Linked DNA regions of Homo sapiens: region 2 is linked to region 1. The links come from fine-mapping of genetic effects on gene expression. Tissue or cell type: whole blood. Region 1 holds a variant in brackets; the other region holds the start of a gene. All regions are shown on one strand. Distances are from middle to middle.

The links.
Region 2: LSMEM1 starts here. The variant in region 1 is fine-mapped to the expression of LSMEM1 in whole blood (TOPMed, PIP above 0.99).

What each region holds. Positions count from the first base shown.
Region 1 is chr7:112,443,839-112,446,761 of GRCh38, forward strand. It overlaps a transcript of LOC105375457 not described here and a transcript of IFRD1 not described here. Among named protein-coding and RNA genes, the nearest start is that of IFRD1, 5.2 kb to the right of the region's middle. The variant C/T (reference allele first, on the strand shown) is at 1,453.
Region 2 is chr7:112,479,878-112,482,800 of GRCh38, forward strand. LSMEM1 (leucine rich single-pass membrane protein 1) reads left to right here and starts at 1,114. Exons shown (of 4, transcript NM_182597.3): 1 at 1,114-1,469.

The DNA of each region.
Region 1 (2,923 bases):
GTGACAAGAGTGAAACTCTGTTTCAAAAAAAAAAAAAAACCCAAAAAACAAACACCATCCCCCACCAAAAAAACAAAAACAAAAACAAAAAAACAAAACTAGTTGTAGAATGTAGAGAGGTTGGTAAAGAACAAGTTGATTTTGGTTATGTTTGGTATGAAGAGTCAGGATATCCAAATGGAAAAGTCCACTGATATTCTTTATGTTCAACAAAAAGATAATTCCTACTTACGCTGTTGCCATAAAAAGTTCTTCCAACATAATGCGTCATAACTATCCTAGTTTGGCTGTGTGTATTATGGTACTTATGGCTCACAGTACCCTGTTAACACAGTCTCATATTTTATTATTGATAATACTGCAGCTTTGTGAGATAAGCAACATTCCCATTTTAGAAGACAATTAAACACTGACTGTCTTTTGTCAGAAATTTCATTACAGAAAGTGTATGTAATTTCAAAACTGAAAACCACAAAGAAGTATCTTCTACACAACAAAAAGAAAAAAGCAAACAAAATATATCTTAAGGCTTAAAGAGTTCTAACTAAATTTGCCCGCCGAATCATTTCTTAACAAACAGGGATCTCAAATTTAGCATGCTGTATTATCACCATTCTTGGCAATAAAACAAAAATTGCAAACATATTAAGAAAACAATGCAATCTAAAACACAACAAGTGATAATCCATGTAAAAAATTATTTGATGGAATAACATTACTATTTAATAATAAAGTTCTGCTAAAGCTTTAGAAATATCAGAAAAAACTTACACTGGCAAACATTCATCAGGCAGTCAACAACTGAATGTCCCCTGTATACTGATACTAGGGGTGAAGAGACTCTAAAAAAAAGGGGAACAAGGCAAAATTTAACTTCAAGGGGCCTTTTCTCGCAGCATTGCAAATAAAACCCATGACTCTGGACATAAAAAAGCAACAGTGACACTGGGGACTACTAGAGGCGGGAGGGATGGAGGGGGAAAGAGTTGAAAAACTACTGGGTGCTATGCTCACTACCTAGGTGACGGGATCATTCATATCCCAAACCTCAGCATCATGCAATATAACCATGTAACAAACCTGTACATTATACCCTGAATCTAAAAGTTGAAATTATAAAAAAGCAAACAAGAAAACCCATGACTCCTAGGAACAAGCACTCAGGTTCCCATATGACCAAAGCCAGCCAGAGGCAAACTTGGAATCAGATAGGCCTAGGCTTTCTTTTTTTTTTTTTTTTTTTTTTGAAACAGGGTCTCGCTCTGTCACCCAGGCTGGAGTGCAGTGGCGCAATCTCGGCTCACTGCAAGCTCCGCTTCCCGAGTTCATGCCATTCTCCTGCCTCAGCCTCCCGAGTAGCTGGGACTACAGGCGCCCGCCACCACGCCCGGCTAATTTTTTATATTTTTAGTAGAGACGGGGTTTCACCGTGTTAGCCAGGATGGTCTCGAT[C/T]TCCTGACCTTGTGATCCGCCCACCTTGGCCTCCCAGAGTGCTAGGATTACAGGTGTGAGTTACCCCGCCCGGCCGGCCTAGGCTTTCATCACAACAGACGCACTGTTTACCAATGGTACGACCTTGGGGAAGTTGCAAAACCTCTCTAAGCTCATTTCTTCATCCACAAAATGGTAAAACTAATCTTTTCTGCGTAGGGTTGTTGTAAGAATTACATGAGAGGTGTGAAAACAGTCTAGAACAGTGGCAGTGTGGACTTGCAATAAATGTTAGCCTCATCCTTTTCCCCACATTAGTTCCTTTGCTTTTAAGAAAACTGCTAAAATACAGAGGAAATTGACTCCCTCATTCAATTAAAAACACAGTTATTGTCTACTGGGCCACTATGTACAGATGTATAGGTTGTTCCCTGCTGAAGAGAGATTGGTGACTGGATTCCAGCCCATAAACACTCATCAGACTTGGTGTTCTGTTTCTAATTTGCACAAAGGTGCTACATGTGTGTTTCAGAAGTGACAAAACTGGGCTTTGCCCACAAGTAGCATGTAGCTTGTATCTCATGTCTGAGGGGAAAACAGACAAGTAATCAAGAACTACAATACATATTAAAAAAAAAGAAGTAAAAAAACCCTACAATACATATAATTAATGCTAGTCTAAAGAAGGCACTGCAAGAACAAAAAAGAAAGACATTTAAATCAGACAATTTGGGGGGCCCAGGATTAGTGACCGAGGATCAGTAACTTAAAGGATGATGGGGAGATCGTGGGGAAGGATGTTCTAGGCAGAGGAGTGACATTTAATTATTAATACATTTATTCATTCAGTAAATGTGTTTTGTTAGTTCATGTCTTTTATTAACTCATACACAATTAATTGTCTTCTGGTTTGCTGAAGCAATGAGACATTTGTCACAATAATGTCTGTCAAAGTGGCTGGCCATAAACGCTCCAGTACCACATTCATCTGAAGAGCACTCTAGATGAAGGCGACTTATTTTGCCATTCTCATCCACCTTACAGTATTTCAGGACAGCCAGCTTCACCTTCTTTCGCTTACGCTTATTCTTCTCAGGAGTGGTGTAAACATTCAGTAAAAAATAATTGAATATCTAAGTGCCACGTACTGTTCCAGTACTGAAGATACAATAGTGAATAAAACAGACAGGATCTCTTTCTTGTAATTCTAACATTCTAGTAGAAGAGACAAAAAATAATTGGGCCAAAAAATATTAAGTAGTGCGATGTACTTTGGGAGAATATAAGCAGGGTGGAGGTGCTGGTGGTAGGTGGGGTGAGGATGCGACCTTAGAATGGAGAGTGGAAGAGTGGGAGAGTAGGAAGGCCTCTTCAGGTAGGTGTCATTTAAGCTCAGATCTGAATGGCAAGTGTGGGAAGCTCGGGTTGATCATATCAGGCAGAGGGAGGAGCTGTTGCAAGTCTTAAGTGGGGAATGAACTTTGTGTTTTTA
Region 2 (2,923 bases), 36 kb after region 1:
TTCAGAGAAATTTGACATAGCTTTTTAACGTATGTTTCTGAGAAAAGTTACTAGTTATATTGTCTTCCTCCAAGAATTAGTCTTTGGGTACAGATGAGGCTTGAAAAAATGACATTCCCTCTTAGACTAGGTAGTGTGAAGGGAAAAAAAAAATGACATTCCTCTTCCCCCAAAGCAGAGTGAGGTCCGTATGGGATATAGGTGTAAAGAAAATTTTGGGCCGGGCATGGTGGCTCAAGTTTGTAATCCCAGCACTTTGGGAGGCCGAGGTGGGTGGATCACTTGAGGTCAGGAGTTCAAGACTAGCCTGACCAACATGGTGAAACCCCATCTCTACTAAAAATAAAGAAATTAGCCAGCTATGGTGGCACATACCTGTAATCCCAGCTACTTGGGAGGCTGAGGCAGGAGAATCTGGAAGCAGGAAGGTCTCAGTAGGCTGGGATCATGCCACTGCGCTCCAGCCTGGGCAACACAGCAAGACTCTGTCTCAAAGAAAATTTTGTGGAACACCTATTTTCTCACTGACATGAAAAATGTTTCAAAGATGAATAATGTCCATCAAGCTATGGCAATGGAAGTGAGGATGATAAAGGATTGCACAGTTGTTCACAACCTCACTGTTAGTATCCTGCTGAGATAGTTGGTCTCCTCATCACTGTAGCATCTTTTATGTACAGCAGAGGGCAGAAGCTCCTTGGCATGTATGTGAGGGAACCACATATATGGAAGGCTGTTATTCCTGAGAAAGGAGGATGTGCAGACACTCACAGAACAAAGCCTTTGTAAAGGAAAGGCGGCCGATGAGATGGAGTGCTTCCTTCACCTGTGGTGGGTCTGTATCCATGAAATCGCCCACTCACAATCGCTTTTTGTAGCTACTGGAAGCACTAGGCGTCTGACCTGCCATCATCCTTGTTATGATGTCATAATCATATTCTGTCCGTGTTTATTGCAGTTCTCTGGTTTGTCTGGAGTGTTTGCAAGTCAGTCATCATAGTGGCAGCTTCCGCCTGCTACAGGATATTTATATATGGAAGCATACCATGGCAGGAGTGCTGGAAAGGTGGTGTCAGCTAACAGTTGCTTCAGCCAGATAAGGACGGTAACTTCAGTCCAATAAAAACCTCATCAGTTACCAACTAAATCAGGGCATGGTGTTTTTTTGTTGTTTTCTTTTTAAAGCATAGTTTTAGTAATATATTTACTAAAAACCTTAGACATTATGAAAAAAGTCAGGATTTGGAATCTTACACTGCTTGGCTAAATTGACACAATATAGACCAACAGTTTCATCCTGGGGCTTATGGGTCTCATAGGAGCACCCGTATGCTGAAGAAAGGCAAAGAGAGAACTACAGAATTTGTAGAAAAGTTTTGTTGTAGTTGCTTCTGAACAATTAGTTTTTGTTTGTTTGTTTTGTTTTGTTTTGTTTTTCTGGTAACCTAGCAGTCAAAGCTCACATTTTTGTAAGTAATTTGCATGCTATTACTCTACTGAGACTGAATTATGATTCTCGAGTCTGGGAAGTTTTTGTTGCATGTGCTCTGTGTTTTTCATTTTTGATAGAAATGATTTAGACTTGATTTTAAAAATTACTTCCTGAATGTGAAGAGGCATTGACTGGGAAATGAAATTAAAGAACAAATTACCATGACTCATTCAATAACACTGCTTATTAGCTTTGAATTATGCCCTATTATAACAATTCTGATTTTGTGGCAAGCAATACTGGTGTGAGTTATTTCTGTGGTTTGATACCAAGCACCTGCCTGGTTAAAAAATAAAGCACCAGGCAATTTTTCATAGACAATTATCTTTATTTGTTGGAATATTTATTTGTAAATAGTCAAAGAATTCTTAAATGACAAAAAATCAACTGTTAGCAGTGATCTAAACCAGAGGAAAATGAAATTACTTACATGTTTCCAGTCAAGGTATAAGAAAGGGTTCTGTTAAAGGGATGCTGCTTTAGCCAATCTTGGTGAATAAGCAAATTTGCACACTGGAGTTGAAAGGAGGGTCAAGTTAGTGTGATGAAGAATTGCTAGTAACACTGGCTTCTCCAGCCTTGCTGGTTGTTCCTAGATGCCCTCATTTGGAGATGCCAAAGATAGCAACTACTGGGTGTCAAACAGCCGTGGGGCCTGGTTTTAAGGCCATGTGATCTTGTATCCCTTTACTAGCAGCCTCATGAGTCATTTGCAAGTCATTTGCAGGCTCTTGGAGCCCTGGAACAGCACCCAACTCAGTTTTCTCTGCTAGTTCTTTATTTTTCCATTTGCGTGTTGCAGCTCATTAAAAAAATATTGGAATAGCATATATTTACATTGTGACTTCACTCTAAAGAAGACATTTTCTTTCAAAGCACGTCATGGCTCACTAGGTTGTTGTCTTAGTTTTTTTTGGAGTCACCTTTTGAGTAGATAGCAAGACCAGTAATATGGAGATTTTATTAGCTGTACTCTTAAAGTCAGTTTTTGTGGCCATGATTTTCTAGCTAGGTCTCTATTTTGTAAACATTGATTAAGCCTCAGTATGAAATTGAAGCAACAGCAGATACATTCCTGAAGGGGAAGCTAAGGCTCAAGGCTATTAAGTCAGAGATCCAAAAATGAACCATGCTTCAGTTACCACACCTAAAATAGAAGCTGTGTGCAGAACAGTGGTCCTGTGATGTGACACATAAAACTTTTTTTCCTGGTCACATATTACTGTTTGGTCAAATATTAGTATAAATGGATGATAAAATATGAAACACATCTAAAAGAATTGTTTTAAAATCTGTGACTATGCATGAGTGAATATTTTGGGGCCTTGGTTTTAACTGCAAAAGGATAAGATTTGACTGACCTCTAAGGCCCTTTTACTCTATTTGCTGCTGCTTTTTAATTTTTTTTAATTGTCATATCAAGTCATTTCC